3 linked regions of the Homo sapiens genome follow. The protein of the gene in region 2 interacts with the protein of the main gene of each other region in a pairwise test. Each region holds a gene or a part of one and is shown on either strand. Other genes may lie near its edges. The genes, in order: JADE1, YJU2 and SETMAR.

Region 1 (7,109 bases), on a different chromosome or scaffold from region 2:
ATCAAGGGCAAAGATCAAGTTGGGCAGGTTGTTTAACCTCTCTGAGATTCCGTTGATCTTAAAGTTTGTTTTAGAATCAAGACCCCTTAAGTGCATTTGAGCCCTATATTCTGTGATCATAAGCCCCCAAAAGTAGGTAGTATAAGGATTTCAGAGAAGCAGAGCTGCTGAGTGTGGATCAGGCAGAATTAGGGACCCATGGAACAGGTAGGTCTTAGACTGGACTTCATTGGAAGATAGTCAGCCTCTCTCCTGCCTTGGACTGCCCTTTAAAGTTCTAGCTGCACCATTCTTGGTGCTTGCGTTGTGCAATCATAGTTGATTCACTCTTGTTTTTGTGCATTTGTGGCTTTTTGTCACTCCATCTAGATTATTATGGTGCACAGAGAACAAAGAAGTTGTTATAACCTGTTGTGTTGAAATCCAAATTCTGGTTTATCTAACCAATTATGTGCGACTAGAGGGAGCTCGGTCATCTGAAGAAATAAAAAAAGGTTTAGGGAGGTTTAAATAATGTTCTTGAAGTGTTACATAGTTTGAATGCAATAACTTGTTGATATCCTAGATATTTTCTTCCCAAGATTAAGTATTTTCCAGGTGAATCAAGTGTATATCATTAGCTGGAACTTGCAGTTTAATTGTTAAGATTTTAAAAATAAATTTTCTAAGTAGGGTGTCATATGTAAAAGTAGGTCGATTCAGATTCCCTAAGGTGAGCTCTCTCTTCATGATTCCTACCTGAATACAAATAAATGAGATCTGTTTAACTGCCTTGGAAGACTGTCTGGTGCAGATCACCGAGCCTACAGCAGCAAATGCTGAGCTGGGATCACTAATACAAGTTGTGCCTGTGGAGTTGTGCCATTGGAGGGCTTTCTGCAACTCTTAGGTCATTATGTAATGAGTGATTCCCTGTAAAAATAAGCCGTAAAGAGCATTTTCATCTGGTTTCATTTGAGTTATTTCTCATGGATATTGCAGGCAGGTTTTTGCATTTCATGGCTGAGGTTTTTACTGGGTGAGCGAATGATATTCTTAATAAGTCTGGGAGTTATTTTGTGGTAACAGAGCTGTAATGTAGATCTGCATTCAGAAGTCCTACTATTTCAGAAAAGGAAAACAAATCTTCCTTTCATTCTGATGTAAGAACCATAGGTATGATCAGTTGAAAACATTTATCTTCCTGTAGGATTCTGTTGAGTAATGCAGTTGAAACCCTTTAGGGTGCTTTTTTTCTTTTTCCAGTCCTAGGCTTCAGTCGTGTTCTTATTCATGCCTAAAGGCTGTCTCCTGCCTGAAGTAGAGCAGATGGTCATGATTTATATGTCATTTAGGGTCCATGGTTTAAACTCTGTGATTCTGAGAGTGGGTAGGGTCATTTGCTGAGAGTGTCCTCAGTGGCAACAGTGCTTATGGGGGGTGGGAGGGTCATGAGTTGGAGGCTCTTTAGAGACATGGATTACAGTCAAGGAGATAGAAATCAGAGTTCAGAAAATGTTAGCCTCTTCTTACCATTCTCTTTTCCTGTGGCAGGTGATTGAGTAAAAGAAATATATGCAGTGTGATGTGAAGGTTGATTCTAATGATTGATTCTTGAGAAAGCAGCATTTCCAAACCAGCAGGTTGTAAAACACCTCCTGTGGTCATGACAGCTCTGTGTTCTGAGTCGCTAGCTATGTTTCATTTGCTTGCAGTGTCTGTGTCTGGTGAGCACTAGGTTCTCATATGGCCTCCTGTCTCATAACCTGGGGGCTGAACCTTGTTTTCTTGGTGGCTCATATCTTATGGGAGACAGAAAACATGAGAACTGCTCTTTCTAGATGATCTTGAGGCTGTTGTAGAATCATGGTCTTTATGACAAACACTAATGTGTTATGAATTCACCTGCTAGGGGTAACAACTCATTAGTGGGTTGTGAGATGAATTCAGTGGGTCATGACCAGTATTAAAAACAAGTAAAGTATAATAGGAAATGTCAGAGTACATTATCAAATGATGAGGGTTAATATTATTTCGTGAAATGTGAACTCTTACTAGGTCATGCTGTGGAATTTAGTCACTGTGATTTGCATCAAAAAATACGAAAAACATCAATTTAACTTACTTCAAGTTGAATGACAATTCAGTTGAATCCCACAAATGTATTTTGCACATAATAATAATGAACATTTTTGGAACGCTTACTATGTGTCAAGAATTATTTCACACATTTCCTTTATTCATTCACATGTTTACATGTACTTGTCCTCGTAATAGCCCTGTGAGGGTACAGACACATAGAGAAACTTACAAGCCCCGAGCCCTGCTTTTTGGGTCCTCTCAGTCTCGTACGGGAGGCAGAAGACTGGACCGTGGAGGAGCGCGGCGCAGGTGCTGCTCTGTAACCAGGTAGAGGGAGCAGAGGCAGCCATCAGCCACCTGATGAGTTCTGCATGGAGTCCGCTCTGAAAATCAGATCAGTTATTTTGTTTGGAGGAGGTCTAGTTTTATGAAAAATTATGTGAGCTTCAGCTGTTTTAGAAAATGTGGCATATTGAGTCTGCAGATTGAATGGAGATTCTCAAGGCAGGTCATCTCTTCACTATAAAAACCAAATTTGTACAAACTTGGTGGTGTAAGTGTTGTGTTGTTGGGTGGGGAGTTCACATCAATTGGGCCACACTAAGGGTGTAGAATTTTATTCTTTTGGATTTGCTTCTGCTGTAATTTTTCTTTATTTGTGGTTTTATGTTTATAGGTGTGCCTTCTTCCTGCTCCTCCTCCTCACTGGAAAACATGCTTTTGTTTAACAGTCCTTCTGTTGGCCCTGATGCTCCCAAGATAGAGGACTTGAAGTGGCATTCTGCATTCTTCAGAAAACAAATGGGTACTTCCTTGGTTCATTCGCTGAAAAAGCCCCATAAGCGAGATCCTTTGCAGAATAGCCCTGGAAGTGAAGGCAAAACCCTGCTGAAGCAGCCAGACCTGTGTGGTAGAAGGGAGGGGATGGTGGTCCCAGAGAGCTTTTTGGGTTTAGAAAAGACCTTTGCAGAAGCACGTCTCATATCAGCACAACAGAAAAATGGTGTGGTGATGCCAGACCATGGGAAAAGAAGAGACAATCGTTTTCATTGTGATCTCATTAAAGGAGACTTAAAGGACAAATCTTTTAAACAGAGTCACAAGCCTCTCAGGTCCACAGATGTGTCCCAGAGGCATCTGGACAACACAAGAGCTGCCACCTCCCCTGGAGTGGGGCAGTCAGCACCTGGCACAAGGAAGGAGATAGTGCCCAAGTGCAATGGCTCCCTAATCAAAGTAAACTATAATCAGACTGCAGTCAAAGTGCCTACAACACCTGCCAGCCCAGTGAAAAACTGGGGAGGATTCCGGATTCCAAAGAAGGGGGAACGGCAGCAGCAGGGAGAGGCCCACGATGGGGCCTGCCACCAGCACTCAGACTACCCATATTTGGGCTTAGGCCGAGTTCCAGCCAAGGAAAGGGCAAAAAGCAAATTAAAATCCGACAATGAGAATGACGGGTATGTCCCCGATGTGGAAATGAGTGACTCAGAGAGTGAGGCATCAGAAAAGAAATGTATACACACCAGCAGCACTATCAGCAGAAGGACAGACATTATCAGGAGAAGCATCTTGGCTTCTTGATGCAACAGAGATGATGCGGAAGCCCTTTGGGCTCGTCATTGGGTTTGCTAGAGGAGAGCTCTGATGTGGGGGAGAAGCAGAAACCCATTAATCCTGAGCTACACAAACACATTTACTTGCAATTCAGATTAATTTTTTTCCAGAGTCATTTTTAAATCATTTTTGTGAGAAGTTTGTGTTATTTGCAACTTGTTGAGGAAACAGAAGAGTAGATTGTAACCATAAGACACTGCTAAGACTAGAACCCGAACTGAACACTAAAATAAAAATGAAATGTTTTAAAGAAGGCAAGGCTTAAATAAGCCTCATGAATTTTTATAGCCCTCTGCATTCTTCCCAAAGCACAAACTCATGGTTACCTGAATATAGGGAACCAGATATGGTTCTTGAGAAACCCTCATGGTACCATTCACAGCCCATAAAGTTTATTTTCTAGGACTGTGGTAGATCTTGAAATCATATTTATATTTGGCCCTCAAGGCTATTTTTGTTGCATTATAGCATATAGGCAGCAGCTCTGAAGCTTCAGTAACACTAAGAAATTTATGTGTAAATATAGCAGTCAGGGAAGAGAATTTTAAAAAAGGTCATTATTGAAGAAGCTGAGGGGACAGGGTAGAGCTGCTGCAATATGGAGATTTAGGGTAATATGGCAAGGTCCTGCTGCTTGAAGCCTGTGAGTGGGTTGTGGATATGGGACTGGTGGAGAGTGAGACTGTTAGGAAAGTTGTATCTATGAATAAGGGCAGTTGAAGTAGAATTTTTACCAGTCCACTTGACCTTCTTCTTCCCTAACCACTGGCTCTTGAGCCAGCTTGGGATTTCCCTGGCCATTGCCAATACCTGGCCATCTGGCTTCCAATAGTACAGTGGCTACTCAAGTTCAAGCGAAGAACTTCCAGACTCTGGTGACTGTTACTTCCCAGAGCCAACCACTAGTGCATATGTTAGGGAATCTGGGCTTCCAACATGAATGGATTCCTTAAGAAAAAGGAAAAAAAAAAAAAAAAGAAAAAAAGAAAAAAAAAAGAAAAAAGAAAAAAAGAGAAAAAAGCGAAATAGGTTATATTTTAAAAACAATAGAAAGGCAATAAGTTGCGATAAGCTCTTACTATTGACCAAGGTTATACAGGAAAGAGACTGAAGTGTACCCTTGAATAGGTTTTCTGTAGTCAGAGTTCTAAACTCTAATTTGTAACTTGGACTTTCTAATTGCAAATGGCAATAACTATTAAGTTATCAGCAATAATAAATTTAGCATTAAATTTGAGTACAATGTTTTGTTTTTGCACTCCCCATAGTGCGTATGTATTAAGACAGTGGATAGTGTTTAGGTCCTGTTAATTTTCTTTGGAATTCAATGTGGTTGTGAATCAAACTTAAGGAAGGAACGTTTAAATAGCAATGAGATACAGAATTATGGGCCTTTGGAACAAGCCCGACTTCCCCTAAATTCTCCTTAGTTTGTTAATACCAGTATTCAGATTCCTGATTCATTTATACATCTGTTTCCATATGGCAGGGACATTATGATACTTAATGAATAATGCTTTGAGGAGTTCTGCAGTTAACTTTCAAGTCTTCCAGATGATTGTCAACAACAAAAAAGGCTTATTGAATCCCATCTTGCTATGCAAGTTTTATCAGATGATCAAATAGTAGATCTGATACATCCCCATTGTATGTACGACATTTTCAAACCAAGTCTTAACTTTTCAAGGACATTTTAGTAGCTAATTCAGGGGAGGGGGAAGAATGATGCAGGTTTTTAGATTGACTGACTATTTTTGAGTTATGGGGCTCATTTTGAAAGACTGCTGTCCAGATCAGCTTGTTGCTGCAGATAATAGAAGGTTCTTATGAATCCAAGTTGTATATTCACTTGTAGGATAATTTAAAAATTAGATTTTTTTTGCATATGAGCAAAAACCTTTTGCTGGATACAGGAGAAGGTTGGACTTTATCTACAGTTATCTTTTGATTACAGCAACAGCTCTGGGTGAGAGTAGAATTTATAGAGGGATAATTTGTCAAGCCATAGAAAGAAAATCTAAATTAATCTAGTAAGTGTATGACCTCTCACCATTTTAAGAGGTATCAGATTCATTTGCACTATTAGGAATGCTAGTTTTGTGCAAAAATAATGCCTTACCTGTTTTTTCCCCACATTTAGGTTGAAAAGCTTTCAAATGTTCCAAGTTATGCTGAACCAAAAAAAACAAAACAAAAACAAAACAAAAAATATTAAAAAAAACCCACACAAAAACAAAACACACAAAAATAAAAAGCCCACACTTTTTATTCCTGCTTCGAAATGCAAATGGATAGAGCACGGTTTCTCTGACAGTATAATGATAGCTTTGTGAGTTAGTTTCATGTCATGCTGGGAACTCTCTATGAGGTGGCCATAAGCAGCAACCAGCCCAAACACCCACTTGCGTTCTATTAGTATGGAACCATTTGCATTTGTTTTTTTTAAGCTTTATCTTTCCTTGTGCATCCTGACCAAGAAATATCTTTGATTATGATTAATGTATTATGTCAAAATGTAGGCTAGTTAAACTTTTGTAAAGTTGCCTGGAATGTCATTTGTTAGGTTATAAACACAAGATCTAAATGAAGGGTTTTATGTGTTGTGTACAAATCTTATTTTGAAATGGACAAACTTGTCATTACATTTGTAACCTTGTACAGAGGATTTTTCACTATGTGCCTAGCTTGGTGTCCATTCAGCTAAAATTGAAAAAAAAAAAAAGGTGCATGAAGAGTTAAAAATCAAATTAAAGTATATGTAGAGATGACTATTTTATATTACATGACCCAATCCTGTATTTATTTCTACCCCCTTTTTGAAAGTATTTATAAAACTAGTTGAGGACAGCTGTATTTTTTTGTTGAACTATTTAGTAGAATTGTGCCTTTTTGTCTGTATGTGAATAAATGCTGTACATTTTGCAATACATTTTAAGTGTCTTTTGAAATCTGCTTTTGCTAAATATTTAAAGGTATATATGACTTAGCAGTCCTGAATCAGTTGTTTACTGTCTTCCACTTTAAATCAGGAATGAGAACTGTAGAGAACATATCAAATTTGTGCAGAGCACAGATTCACTGGGCTGCTTTCTGGCTCAACTCTGATGGCGAGACTGAAAAATAACGGTTTGAGTTTAGTCTTCCCCACCTGGAGTTCTTTCCAGAATACAGTTTTGGATCTGAAAACAGAATCGTTGAAACAACGTAGACTTCAGGGTCAGAGAGAACTGTATTTAAAGGCTAAACTATAGTTTACCAGGCACATGACATTGGCCAAGTCACTTAACCGTTTTAAGCCTCAGTTTTCCCAGAAAGAGGATAACATCTTAGTAACTTAGATATTGAAGTAGTTGTGATTATTTAAAGCAAGTCCATTGAGCACCTTACAGAGAGCATATATTAGGCATTTAGTAAGTGGTAGGCTATTATTT
Region 2 (7,109 bases):
CTTCTCCTTCTACTTACACATGGCAGGCTCCTCTTGTCTGCCATAGGTCATGGCTCCAATCTCACCCCTCCGGGAGGCCTCCATCATCCCCTCACGGTGCCCAGATCTTGCCTTTTGTAGCACTTCAGAATTACTGTATTTCACCAACTCTCAACCCCATACCTTTTCATGCTCTAGCATATCTGAAATCACGCACCTAACGAGGAAAGAGACATCTGGGTCAGTGAAATTCGGTTCATGCCCATGTGTTGTTGGCCTGTCTACTCCTCCCCCTCATTCATTCATTTATTCATTCAACACTCATTTATTGGGCACCTGCTGTGTGCCAGGGTCTGTGCCGAGCGCCAGGAACAAAGTCCCTGGCCTCATGGAGCCCACAGTCTAATGGGAAGTGGAGAATAGTGGTAGTCAGGCAGGTGCACGGGCCCCCGAAGTCAGGCAGGAGAGAGCCCCTGGGGCAGTGGCGCAGGAGGGAGGGCTATAGGTAGCTGGGGTACGGTGACATCAGGCAAAATACTGGTGGCGCTGAGGTCTGAGGATGAAGGGTGTCGCCGGCCATGAGACTGTAGGAGCAGAGGCCTTGAGCTGGGACTGAGCTGGGGGTGTTTGCAGGATCAGACAGGAGGCGGGCGTGCTGGGCTGGGGAGCAGAGCCCGGAGTAGGAGGGGAAGAGGGGGGTGGGGCAGCATTTTTCTGTGTGGCATCTTTCCTCCTGGAGGGTGGGGTGCCCCGTAAGCACAAAGATTGCTTCTGGGAGTGCATGACAGGCAGGCCTCACCTACTCAGGGGGCTTCCCAAGCAGGCGACCCTTGGACTGAGCCCCAGGAAGATATGAATGAGAACACGAAGTTCTCAGGTAGAGGAAATTTGGACACAGGGTGGGGCAGCCTGCCTCTTGAAGGAGGGAGCTCCCCGTTGCTGGAGGCAAGCAAGCAGTGATCTTGCAGGATGCCGCAGGGACAGCCTGCCAGTGGGAGCCAGCGTCCCAAGACAGCTCACATCCCTACATGCTGCCCCGCAGGTGTAAGACGTGCGGAGAATACATCTACAAGGGGAAGAAATTCAATGCTCGGAAGGAGACGGTGCAGAACGAGGTCTACCTGGGCCTGCCCATCTTCCGCTTTTACATCAAGTGCACGCGCTGCCTGGCAGAGATCACCTTCAAGGTAGGTGAGACGGCCGGCCAGGCCGGTCCCTCTCCCCCAGCACACCTCAGATCAGGGCGGGCCCTGGGGTTCCTTAACTCCAATCCTCTCCATCCAGGGAATCTCATTTCAGTTTATCCCCAAGAAACAGACAACAGTTTGGGGGAGATGTTCATGGCAGCATTCTAAATAAAGGCAAAAAGACAGAAGCAACCTAGATAGATAATAATAAGGGATGAGAAGAACAAATTAGCATGCAGGCTGGGCATGGCTCACACCTGTACTCCCAGCACTTTGGGCGGCCAAGGCGGGCAGATCACCTGAGGTCAGAAGTTCAAGACCACCCTAGCCAACATGGCGAAATGCCATGTCTACTAAAAATACAAAAATTACTGGGCATGGTGGCGGACTATAATCCCAGTTACTCGAGAGGCTAAGGCAGGAGAATCACTTGAAGCTGGGAGGCAGAGGTTGCAGTGAGCGAAGATTGCACCGCTATACTCCAGTCTGGGTGACAGAGCAAGACTCCAACTAAAAAAAAAAAAAAAAAAAGCCAGGCACAGTGGCTCATGCCTGTAATTCCAGCAGGTTGGGAGGCCAAGGCAGGAAAGAGAGCCCCTGAGGTCAGGAGTTTGAGACCAGCCTGGCCAACATGGTGAAACCCCGTCTCTACTAAAAATACAAAAGTGAGCCAGGCGTGGTGGCTCATGCCTGTAATCTCAGGTACTTGGGAGACCAAAGCAGGAGAATCGCTTGAACCCGAGAGGGAGAGGTTGCAGTGAGCCAACATTGCGCCATTGCACTCCAGCCTGAGCAACGAAATGAAACTCTGTCTCAAAAAGAAAAAAAAAAGTAGCGTGCAATGGAATATTACACAGCCAATAAAAATTGCAATTTGACTTTTATTTGTTACCTTGAGAATTTAAGGAAAGACTGAAGATAACTTAAAATTTTCTCTTCCTATGCTTAAGTACTCTTTGAATACTTTTTTGCCATAAGCTTTTTTTCTTTGATTAAAAAAACATTTTGGGCTGGGCGCAGTGGCTCACAGCTATAATCAGCACTTTGGGAGGCCAAGGCAAGTGGATCAGTTGAGGTCAGGAGTTCGAGACCAGCCTGGACAACATGATGAAACCCCAACTCTACTAAAAAAAAATACAAAAATAGGCCGGGCGCAGTGGCTCACGCCTCTAATCCCAGTACTTTGGGAGGCTGAGGCAGGCGGATCATGAGGTCAGGAGATCGAGACCATCCTGGCTAACACAGTGAAACCCCGTCTCTACTAAAAAAAAAGCAGAAAAAAATTAGCCAGGCGTGGTGGCGGGTGCCTGTAGTCCCAGCTACTCGGGAGGCTGAGACAAGAGAATGGCGTGAACCCAGGAGGCGGAGCTTGCAGTGAGCTGAGATCGCGCCACTGCACTCCAGCCTGGGCGACAGAGCGAGACTCCGTCTCAAAAATAAATAAATAAATTAATAATAATAATAATATTTTGGCTGGGTGCAGTGGCTCACGCCTGTAATCCCAACACTTTGAGAGGTCAAGGGAGAAGGATCGCTTAAATCCAGGAATTCAAGACCAGCTTGGGCAACATAGTGAGATCCCGTCAGTACAAAAAAATATAAAAATTAGCTGGGCATGATGGCATGCGCCTATAGTCCTAGCTACTTGGGAGGCTGAGGCAGGAGAATCAATTGAGTCTGGGAGGCCAAGGCTGCAGTGAGCCATGATTTCACTGCTATACTCCAGCCTGAGTGACAGAGTGAGACCCTGTCTGCAAAAAAACAAACAAAAACTTTTTTTGAAATACCTGAAGATTTACAGAAAAGTTCCAAAGATAGTACAGATAATTCTCACCTACCCCCTCACCAACTTCCCCGAATATTAGCATCTTATATAACCAGGGTACATCTGTCACAGTAAGATACTAAGGGTGGGGCCAGGCATGGTGGCTTACTCCCAGCGCTTTGAGAAGGCAAGGCAGGAGGATTGCTGGGGACCAGAAGTTCAAGACTAGCCTGGGCAACATAGTGAGACCCTGTCCGTGTCTACACACACACACACACACACACACACACACACACACACAAATTTTAATTAAAAAAAGAAACTAAAGGTGGAATGTTACCATTAACATTGTAGGCTGTGGCTGGGTGCAGTGGCTCATGCCTGTAATCCCGGCACTTTGGAGGCCAAAGCAGGAGGATCGGTTGAGTCCAAGAGTTAGAGACCAGCCTGGGCAACATGGCGAAACCCTGTCTCTACCAAAAAGAAATTTAAAAATTAGCCAGGTGTGATGGTGCATACCTGTAGTCCCAGCTACTCGGCAGGCTAAGGTGAGAGGATTGCTTGAACCCGGGAGGCTGAGGTTGCAGTGAGCCATGATCCTGCCGCTGCACTCCGGCCTGGGCAACAGCACGAGACCCTGTCCCCAAAAAAATAAAAAACATAGTGTTACTATTAGCATTTAGACCAAAGGTAGATTTCAGTTTTTCTGCTAATGTCACTTTTCTGTTCCAGTGTGTAATTTAAGATACCAGGGTGTATTTAGCCTCTCTATTCAATAAACAAAAACAGGGGCATGCTGTATACATATTTGTACATGTGATTTATAATCAAAGAAAAGGTGTTAATAAATACAAAGGGCAGAAATCACAACATGTGCAGAACCTTGGAGATTTTTTTTTTTTTTTGAGACAGGGTCTCACTTTGTAGCCAAGGCTGGAGTACAGTGGTGTGATCTCAGCCTCCCAGGTTCATGTGATTCTCATGCCTCAGCCTCCAGAGTAGCTGGGATTACAGGCATGCACCACCTTGCCCTGCCTAATTTTTTGTATTTTTAGTAGAGACAGGGTTTCTCCATGTTGGCCAGGCTGGTCTTGAATACCTGACCTCCAGTGATCCACCTGCCTCATTGGAGAGTTTGTTTGCAGTCATGTTAAGGGTAGGGAGTGGAGGATGCAGGGAGGCAGTGGGCAGATGAGAAGAGTCTTAAAGTCCATGCCAGGGAGTTGGGCATTTTTGCCCATGGAGATGGGAGGAGCACTAGGAAGAAATCTCACCAGTCAAAGCAATAAGACAAGAAAAAGAGAAGGTAGTAGAACCAGTAAAAATCAGAGAGAAGGGGCCCTGATCTGCTGGTGGTACTTTAGAAGATTCTAGTGCCTGGGGATGTAGGAGCTGATGTCTGTCTATCCTCCCTGCAGACAGACCCTGAAAACACAGACTACACCATGGAGCATGGAGCCACGCGGAATTTCCAGGCTGAGAAGCTCCTGGAGGAGGAGGAGAAGAGGGTGCAGAAGGAGCGGGAGGACGAGGAGCTGAACAACCCCATGAAGGTGAGTCGGGGGCCATGTAGGTGTTCATGGGCGCTGTGTGTGTGGGTGTGTGTGTGTGCCAATGGTTGTGCCCTTCCTGCCTCAGGTCCCCAAGGAAGGAAGATGGGGTGGGGGGCGTGGTTGGTAAAACTTTAAGATGTCCCCAGGAGGCCAGGCATAGTGGCTCATGCCTGTAATCTCAGCACTTTGGGAGGCTGAGGCGGGAGGATCACTTGAGGTCAGGAGTCCTAGACCAGCCTGGCCAATGTGGCGAAACCCTGTTCCTACTAAAAATTTTAAAACTTAACACTGGGCGCAGTGGCTCACACCTGTAATCCCAGCACTTTTGGAGGCCGAAGTGGGTGGGTCACGAGGTCAGGAGTTTGAGACCAGCCTGACCAACATGGTGAAACCCCGTCTCTACTAAAAATACAAAAATTAGCCAGGCATGGTGGCACGCTTCTGGAATTACAGCTACTCAGGAGGCTGAGGCAGGAGAATCGCTTGAACCGGGGAGGCAGATGTTGCAGGAAGCCGAGATGGCGCCACTGCACTCCAGCCTGGGTGACAGAGTGAGATTCTGTCTCCAAAAAAAAAAAAAAAAAATTAGTCAAGCATGGTGGCGCATGCCTGTAATCTCAGCTACTTGGGAGGCTGAGGCAGGAGAATTGCATGAACCCGGGAGGCAGAGGTTGCAGTGAGCCGAGATCAAACCACTGCACTCCAGCCTGGGCAGCAAAGCAAGACTCTGTCTCAAAAAAAATAAATAAATAAAAGAAATTATGTTCACTTCCAATAGGACAATTTTGTATTTTCTCAGAAATATTAAAAGGAGCCATGCATGGTGGCTTGAACCTGTAGTCCCAGCTACTTTAGGGGTTGAGACAGGAGGATCACTTGAGTCTAGGAGTCAAAGACCAGCCTGGGCAACATAGTGAGACTCTGTCTCTATAAAACATTAAAAAATTAGCCAGGTGCTTGCCAGGCGTGGTGGCTCACACCTGTAATCGCAGCACTTTGGGAGGCCAAGGCAGGTGGATCACAAGGTCAGGAGTTCAAGACCAGCCTGGCCAAGAGGGTGAAACCCCGTCTCTACTAAAAATACAAAAAATTAGCCGGGCATGGTGGCAGACACCTGTAATCCCAGCTACTCGGGAGGCTGAGGCAGAGAATTGCTTGAACTCAGGAGGCAGAGGCTGCAGTGAGCTGAGATCATGCCACTGCACTCCAGCCTGGGTGACAGAGCAAGATTCTGTGTCAAAAAAAAAAAAAAAAAAAAAATCAGCCAAGTGCTTTGGGAGGCTGAGGCAGGCGGATCACCTGAGGTCAGGAGTTCAAGACCAGCTTGGCCAACACGGCGAAACCCTGTCTCTACTAAAAATACAAAAATTAACCAGGCGTGGTGGCACGCGCCTATAATCCAAGCTACTCAGGAGGCTGAGGCAGGAGAATTGCTTGAACCCAGGAGGCGGAGGTTGCAGTGAGCCAAGATCGCGCCATTGCACTTCAGCCTGGGCAACAAGAGTAAAACTCTGTCTCAACAACAACAACAAAAATTAGGCAGGTGTACTGGTGTGCACCTGTGGTCCCACCTACTAGGGAGGCTGAGGCGGGAGGATCACTTGAGCCCAGGAAGTTGAGGCTGCAGTTAGCTATGATCACATCACTGCACTCCAGCCTGGAAGACAGCAAGACTGTCGCAAAAAAAAAAAAATATATATATATATATATATATATATGTACACACACATATACATATATATACATACACATATATATATAAAACAGATTTTTAAATGACTGTGTTCCCTGCTGTCCCCTCCTGCTTCCATATTTCCCATCCATTCTTATCTATTCCTGGACCCACCCACCCCTGCCAAATGTGAGTTTTCTGAGCAAGCCACATCAGACCAGATACAACATTTTCCATGGCCATGCAGAGCAACAGGGAGGGAAATGAGCCTTGGCAAGGGTTTGGTGTGTGCCTGGGCCTGTCGCACTGCTGTCTGTGTGTGAATTTAGTTACCTCCACACTGACAGCAAGGGGCTCTTACCCTGGTGTTAGTCAGCTATTGCTACATAACAGGTTATCCCAAAACTTAGTGACTGAAAACAACAAACATTTATTATCCCACAGTTTTTGAGAGTCAGGCATCCAGAAGCAGCTGAGCTGGATGGTTGTGGCTTGGGGGCTCCCATGAGGTTGCAGTCAAGGTGTTGGCCAGGGCAGTATCATCTGAAGGCTGGACTGGGGCTGGAGGAGCCACTCGCAAACTGGCTCCCTCTACTGGCTGTTGGCTGTCAGCCTCAGTTCCTCGCTGTGTGGGGAGCTGCTTGAGCAACCTCACAACATGGCAGCTGCGTACCCCAGAGCATGTGACCCAAGAGTGAGAGCAAGGAGGAAGGCCTGTGCTTTTACATCCTAGTCTCAGAAGTTACGTGCCATTATTTCTGTCATATTCCATTAGAGCAAGTAGCTTGTCCAGCCCCTGCTCAAGGGGAGGGGAGTCACCTCCACCCCTTAAATGGAGGAGCATCAGAGAGTTTGTGGACATACTTTTAAACTGTCAGAATTGCCATTTTTCCAAAGGGTAAATACAACAAGGTCACAGCACTGGGAAGCAGCCAGGCAGGATTCACTCCCAA
Region 3 (7,604 bases), on a different chromosome or scaffold from region 2:
CTATTCAAAATTCCTGAAGGGTGAAACAAACCTTATCTCCAGCCAATCTGAAATTACTCTTTCCTATCCACATCTTTCTTTTTATTACTTTGCTTCTCCTGTTCCTTCCACCTGGAATGCCTAAATCCTATCCATCATTCATGATCTCCCCTGCTAAAAGTAATCTTTACCAGTTCTAAAGATCCATAGCACTTTACCTAAACCTTCTTATGTTTCTTAATTATACTATAAGCAGCTAATTGTATCATATACATGACTATCTCTTCTTTTAAGGAAGGATAGGTACACAACTATATCTGATAAAATATTTACTAGGCAGCTACCTTAAAATCTATAGCTTCTGAGAGGCAAGGCTTCTAATTCAGGATTCCCCCACACCCTATTAATGGGATATATTCTCCTTGCATTTGAGCCACCCTCTGGGAGAACAAACAGCTCCCAGGCAGCTCTGTGACCTGCTGTGTGGACTGCAAGCACTATTCCCACAGAAGGGGTACACCTGAGGCCTCTCTGCTGGTAGGCTTTGGCTCTTGTCCTATAATCTCAAGTGAAGCTAATGCCAAGTGTGGCCAGTGACAGTCCTGTGAACCCGAATGTTTAGTTGAACCTGAAATGACCCTGTGGTAGATGTTTCAAGTACCATATTATGGGTATTAATGAATTTATACATATCAAATGTTTAAACAATATCTGGGCCAGATGTCGTCGCTTATGCCTGTAATCTCAGCACTTTGGGAGGTGGAGATGGGTGGATCACTTGAGGTCAGGAGTTTGAGACCAGTATGGTCAATTCGGTGAAACCCCAGCTCTACTAAAAATACAAAAAAGTAGCTGGGTGTGGTGGCACACACCTGTAATCCCAGCTCCTCAAGAGGCTGAGGCAGGAAGACTGCTTGAACCCAAGAGGTGGAGGTTGCAGTGAGCCAGGATGGCGCCACTGCACTCCAGCCTGGGTGACAGAGTGAGACTCCACCTCAAAAAATAAAAAATAAAAAAACAGTATCTGGTACATAATAAGTCAATAAATGTTAGCTATTATTTCCCATGGTCAGAAATTTGCAGAGTAGGAATATAAATTTAGTCATGGCTGATTTCAGATACTGTGCCCCTAACTCTTACATTTTGATTCTTTTCTACATAGAATCAATTCCCTATTGATATAATTTGGATATTTGTCCTCATCCAAGCCTCATGTTGAAATCTAATCCCCAGTGTTGGAGGTGGGGCATAGTAGGAGAAGACTGGATCATGGGGGCGGGTTTCTCATTAAACCCATGGGTGCTAAAGCACCATCCCCTCGGTGCTGTCATCACAACAGTGAGTTAATTCTCACAAGATCCGGTCATTTAAAAGTGTGTGTGGCACCTGCCCCAACCCCCACTCTCTCTCACTGCTCCTGCTTTGACCATGTGAGATGCCTGCTTCCTCTTCACCTTCTACTATGACTCAAAGCTTCCTGAGGCCTGCCCAGGAACCGAACAAATGCCAGCACCATACTACCTGTACAGCCTGCAGAGCCATGAGCCAATTAAACCTCTTTTCTTTATAAATTACCTAGCCTCAAGTATTTCTTTACAGCAACACAAGAAAGTTTTTATATCAGATGTGTACTCAAAAAAGTTTTTATATCAGATGTGTACTGCAGTGCAAAATTATGTGATTTTATACATGCTCATGAATAGCACATTTATAAGGCTGATCTTTAATTTCTGTTCTCAAACCTATTAATGCCAGGTATAACTGTTATTATAATTTTATGAAAAAAGGATGATGAACTATGAGTGCAAAGAGTTTCTCCCTTCTGGGATAACTAAGTAGAACATTCTGTAAAGACTTGGAGAAAAAAAAGCAAGTCACTAAAAAATGTTTTGCCCTTGAAGTGGGTGTGAGTGAGAAAAGTATAAAAGACTAGGGAAAGAAAACAGATCATGATATCCCATTGCTTCACTATCCTTTAGTTCCCACCCCACTTTAAAGACACCAAAACTGGAACTCAGAGTAAGCTTGACCTGGAGCTCTAATCAGTAGAAAACAAACATACAGAGACACACACACACACACACTCTAGCTCTCCTTCTCTTTTGGCCCTACATCAAAAGACTAGCATATAAATGTACCAAAATCATTTAAGTTAAAACAAAATGTTTCTCTATCTATCTATCTCCCCACCCTCCACCAATATATATATATATAATTTTTATGAGTTCAATAAGATGGTTTTGCCTGTGCTTACATTAAATAGTTGCAGGGAACATAAGAAATGGCTTATAAAGTAGGAGAACTAATGTAAAGAGGGTAACCAATGCTAAGGGAAACAGGGTAAAGAAAGATACAGAGAAGGGACTACTTGAGCTGAGCAGACAGACAGTCCTGGGTAAAGGCACTGGAGATACAAGAACAATGTGGACAAAGGCCCAGAGGCCCAAGTAGAATGGCTTTTTGAGGGAATGTCAACAGAACAAGGGGTTCCAACAGAGAACAGCAGCAAAAGAGACCAAGGAAATAGGTAAAGTCTGGGTCCTCAAAGGCTCATAAGACAGAATATAGAAGGTAAACTTTGAGAGAAAATGGAGCAAATAAGAATCTAAGCAGCAAAATATAATAACTGGACAAGGATCTTCAAAGGTCATTGTAGCAGCGGCAGTAAGGGTGATTTGGGGATATGGAGAATGACAGACTTAAAGCAAAGAACTTCCAAAGTCCAAGCAAGAAATGAGAGAGCCTAGGACTAAGTGAGAAGAGGCAAAAATGAGAACATGAAGGCAGAATCAACAAGACTTACCCACCACGTCCTTAGCTATATGAGTCTAGTGAAGTGAAGGAATACAGAGTAACTGGTTTGTTGCTTTAGTGGCTCTGTAGATCACAAATTATTTTCCCAGTTAACTTTAAAGAAGAAAAAGCAAGACTGGCAGAAGAAGTCAATTCAGATTATTTTGAGTTTGAGGAGCCTGTAGGACAGAAAACAGAAATGCTCAATCATTAGCTGAATATGCGTAACTGGATTTGAGGAGAAACGTCTGATCTGGGTTGGAGACTGGTGACCTAATCCTTTATATTTGAAGCCATGGGAGTGGATGTTATTAATGAGAAAGTTCAGGGAAGGGGAGCAAAGAAAAAGGTCAAGGGCAGAACCCTGAATCACACCCACTTTTCAGAAACAGTCAGGCAGGAAAACAACAAGAGGATACTAACAAGGAAAGGTCTGCAAGATGGAAACACATTTAGGCCAATGGGACCTCAGAAGCTGCAAGGTCAGAAGGGTTTGTGAACCCAAAATTATCTGAGACAGGTCTCAATTTAGAAAGTTTATTTTCCCAAGCTTAAGAATGCGCCCCCAACATAGCCTCAGGCAGTCCTGATGACATGTGCCCAAGGTGGTTGGGATACAGCTTACTCTCACACATTTTAGGGAGACATAATACATCAATCAATACATGTAAGATTGGTTGGATCTGGAAAGGCAGACAACGAGAAGCGGGTGAGGGGTGGCTTCCAGGTCATAGGTAGATTTAAAGATTTTCTGATTGGCAACTGGTTATTATCTAAAGACCTAAAATCAATAGAAACGAATGTCTGGGTTGCAATAAGAGGTTGTGGATACCAAATTTGATCGTGGAGATGAAGCCTCCAAGAGGTAAATTTCAGAGAACAGATTGTAAATGTTTCTTATCAGACTTAAGGTGTGTGTTGATGTTGATGCTGGCTGGCTTTTCCTGAATTCCAAAAGGAAGAAGGGCATAATGAGGCATGTTGGACCCCCCTTCCCATCATGGCCTGAACCACTTTCTCAGGTTAACCTTGGCAGAGAGGAGGGGTCCCTTCAGATGGTTTGGAGGATTGGAATTTTATTTTTGGTTTACAGTTTCAAGGAGAAGCAGGACAATCATGTCAGAGAGCTTCAGTGAGGTTGAAAATGCTCCACCGGATTCAGCAGTCTTGAGGCTATCAGAATCCTTTGGCAGGGCAGGGGTTTGGAGGGGTGAGGGTAGAGGGATGGAGAGGAGGGAAAAGGACAGGCAAAGGGGCACGGATACCTCCATCAGGGAGTGAGCATGCCCCCACACAAATTCCTTAAGGCACCCTGTGAGGCTATCGCCTTGGCACAAACCCTATCACATGTCAGTCAACTTCCCGGCAAGCCGCAGACCTTTAGAAACCTTGGTGTGCGTTTCCCCGCTCGGTTTAGAACGCACCCCTGCCTCCACTCCACAAACGTGCAGTGAGCCCTCAAAAACCTGGACAAATGACCTCACCTCGAAAGCCCCCTCTCTGATGCTCCCAGGAAAAACTAAAGCACCTCACTTTGTTTCGTCCGTACCTTACATGGTTTTGTAATTATCTGTGGTGCCTCTGGCTGAAATCAAAACGGGAGCCAGACCCAAAAAGTCAAGGAAGGGAAGCGCCTTCCAGGCCACTCCTGAGAAGAAACGAACTACAATTCCCATGAGGCGGTGGGGCCACGGGACCACAAGTCCCAGCATCCACCGCGCGGCCCAGGACTGTCAGGGTAGTGGGCGTTGCGTGAGGCGGGTAAATGTTCGCGGAAGCGGCAAAGACGACACGGCCTTGTGGGATGGCGGAGTTTAAGGAGAAGCCTGAGGCCCCGACTGAGCAGCTGGATGTCGCGTGCGGCCAGGAAAACTTGCCGGTGGGCGCGTGGCCCCCGGGGGCCGCGCCGGCGCCCTTCCAGGTAGGGGCGGGGCCAGGCGGCGCGGGAGGCGGGCGCGCGGCTCCCCCACGTGGTCTCCTCAAGCCGCCTCGCTGGGACGGCCTCCCAGTCGCGACCTTTTGTCTTCTCTTACAGCGCACCCGTTGGTGCGCGGGAATAGGTGTGCATGCCCCGGCCTGGGCCTTTTTCTGTTGACCCACGGCATCACCTTAGCAAGGGTGTTGTCCTTTTCAGTCCATTCCCTGAAGCGCAGAACCGGAGGCCTTGTGAGAACCTGGCTTTTTGTCCAGTCCTGTCCTCAGAACTCAAGGAGGCATCACGGGGGGAGTCATTTACCTCCCTGGTCTCAGGTGTCTCTCACAGGTAGGATAAGCCGTGGGGCCTATTAATGGATCGCAGCCGGTGTCGTGCATAAAAACAGCCCCTCGAGTCAGCCTTAGCTGTGGTCTCCCTCACGCTGTGGGCTCTTGGGCGAGTGTAAATTAGCTGTGGCTCAGCCTTAGAGTCTTCCAGCGTACAGTGGAACAGTACCTCTCTTCCGGAGTGCTTTGAAAATGGCAAGGAAAATACACTTTCCGGTTTGCTGTAAGAACTCAGTAAATGTTTGCTTCTATTAACTACCTCAAAGCCCTTTCTACTCTCCTTTTTCTTTTTGAGACTGAGTCTCGCTCTGTCGCCCAGGCTGGAGTGCACTGGCGCGATCTCGGCCCACCGCAACCTCCACCTCCCGGGTTCAAGCGATTCTCCTGCCTCAGCCTCCCGAGTAGCTGGGATTACAGGCATGGGCCACCACGCCCGGCTAATTTTTGTATTTTTAGTAGAGACAGGGTTTCTCCATGTTGGTCAGGCTGGTCTCGAACTCCCAACCTCAGGTGATCCGCCCGCCTCGGCCTCCCAAAATGCTGGGATTACAGGCATGAGCCACGCTCCCAGCCTCTACTGACTTTCTTATCCCTCCGACCTTGGCCTGAGCGTTACCCAAGGAATAAGGAATGACCAAAGATTTTGAAGTGGAAAGAGCGCTGGACGTGGAAGTTGGAGAGTATGGTTCGGAGCTTAGACATCTTAGCTACTTCCCAGAGCCTGAGTTTCTTCATCTGCAAAATGAAAATAATAATTTAAAAATGCATAGCCCCTTTAACATCCATTATCAACAATGAACCCTATCTGCCCTTTCTTTTTCCTAGGGGTTTTTGTGAGGATCAGATAAGATAAGAGATTCAATAGCAGCTTTCAAAGATGTCAAGGAAAAGAATCAAACTCTAAAATATTTGAAGAGATTTATTCTGAGCCAAATATGAGTGACCATGGCCTGTGACACAGCCCTCAGGAGATGCTGAGAACATGTGTCCCAGGTGGTTAGGGCACAGCCTGGTTTTATACATGTTTGGGAGAGAGGAGACGTCAATCAAATACATTTAACATGTACATGGGTTTGGTTCAGAAGGCGGGGCAACTCAAAGTGGTGGGGGGGGCTTCCAGACTATAGGTAGATTTTAATTTTTCTGGTTAACAATTTTTCTGGTTAACAATTGGTTGAGTTTGTCTGAAGACCTGGGATCAATAGAAATGTTTAGGTTAAGATAAAGGGTTTTTTTTTGAGACGGAGCTTGACTCCATCACCCAGGCTAGAGTGTGGTGGTGCGATCAGCTCACTGCAACCTCCGCCTCCCAGGTTCAAGCGATTCTTCCACCTCAGCTTCCCGAGTAGCTGGAATTACAGGCGCCTACAACCACGCCCAGCTGATTTTTGTATTTTTAGTAGAGACAGGGTTTTACCATGTTGCCCAGGCTGGTCTCAAACTCCTGACCTCAAGTGATCCACCCACCTGGGCCTCCCAAAGTGCTGGGATTACAGACGTGAGCCACCGCACCCGGCCATGTAGAGACCCAAGTTTTAATTGTGGGGAGGAGACTCCCAGCTGACTTCAGAGGGAGCAGGTTGTAAAATGTTTCTTATCTAACTTAAAAAGGTGCCTCGGTCTTAGTTGATTATCTCCTTGTTGTGGAAAGAAAGAAAAAGAGGGGGAAAGGGGATTCTCTATAGAATGTGGATTTTTCCCACAAGAGACAACCCTCCAGGGCAATTTCAAGATATGGCAAGGAAATATATTTGGGGTTAAAATATTTTGATTTCTTCCCTTATTTGTTATTTGATGTTATGCCAGAGTCAGGTAGAAAGCAGACCATGCTATATAGGGTTAAAATTAAAACTCCTCTGATGAGACTTTATGGTTTGTAAGGCATGACTCCCCAGGTGCCTTGGGTAGGAATTTGGGCAAGATAAGAAAAAATCAGAGTTTAGTCCTCAAAGAGTAGAATAAGATATTAATGTCAGAAATTATTATTGTTCCCCAGACTACCTTTGGCAATTTATAGTTAATAATACAGTTAGCTGGCCCAATATTAAACAGTGGTCCCTGAAAACTTAGGACTAAGCATTGCTGAGTTCCTGGTCAAAAACACTGATTTAAAAAACCACTGTTCTAGTCCATTCTTAATTCAACAAATATTTATTGAGAGCTAAATATATGCAAGGTGGTGGGTTGGGCTGCAAAGAATACAACAAACAGAAAAACGCACTCTACCCTCAAGGTGTTTACAACTGTCACGATTAGCTTCAATATTCCTGCCGTGCGTGTGTGTGTGCGTTTGAGACTATTCTATAAATCTGTTTCCAATCTTGAGTCATATTTTTCTTTGCCATATCCAAGAACAATCTGTAAAACTATGTGCCCGACGTATTTTTTTAATTAACTCACTTTAAGCGTTAAATTATTTAAAAATAAATTATATAAGTATCTCCCTTAGAATCATTGTAATCATTAATGTCCATAAAATCATGAGGTTTTCTATTTCTCAAAGTGTATATTAAAATAAATACGTCTATTTTTAAAAGGGGAGAAAGGAGTGACAAGAGGAAGCTTTGTGA

What was found.
Region 1: the proteins of YJU2 (region 2) and JADE1 interact in a two-hybrid assay, tested with the Homo sapiens proteins (2 studies listed by BioGRID and IntAct).
Region 3: the proteins of YJU2 (region 2) and SETMAR interact in binary tests that used the Homo sapiens proteins (3 or more experiments, as listed by UniProt).

Annotation. Positions count from the first base shown.
Region 1 is NC_000004.12:128,868,618-128,875,726, forward strand, and holds the end of JADE1 (protein Jade-1), read left to right. Parts: intron 1-2,737; coding exon 2,738-3,645; 3' UTR 3,646-6,607; downstream 6,608-7,109.
Region 2 is NC_000019.10:4,250,006-4,257,114, forward strand, and holds part of YJU2 (splicing factor YJU2), read left to right. Parts: intron 1-1,021; coding exon 1,022-1,166; intron 1,167-4,349; coding exon 4,350-4,484; intron 4,485-7,109.
Region 3 is NC_000003.12:4,298,834-4,306,437, forward strand, and holds the start of SETMAR (histone-lysine N-methyltransferase SETMAR), read left to right. Parts: upstream 1-4,535; 5' UTR 4,536-4,537; coding exon 4,538-4,693; exon of another isoform or gene 4,694-4,838; coding exon of another isoform or gene 4,839-5,035; exon of another isoform or gene 5,036-5,646; coding exon of another isoform or gene 5,647-5,769; intron 5,770-7,604. UniProt on the Homo sapiens protein: Protein derived from the fusion of a methylase with the transposase of an Hsmar1 transposon that plays a role in DNA double-strand break repair, stalled replication fork restart and DNA integration.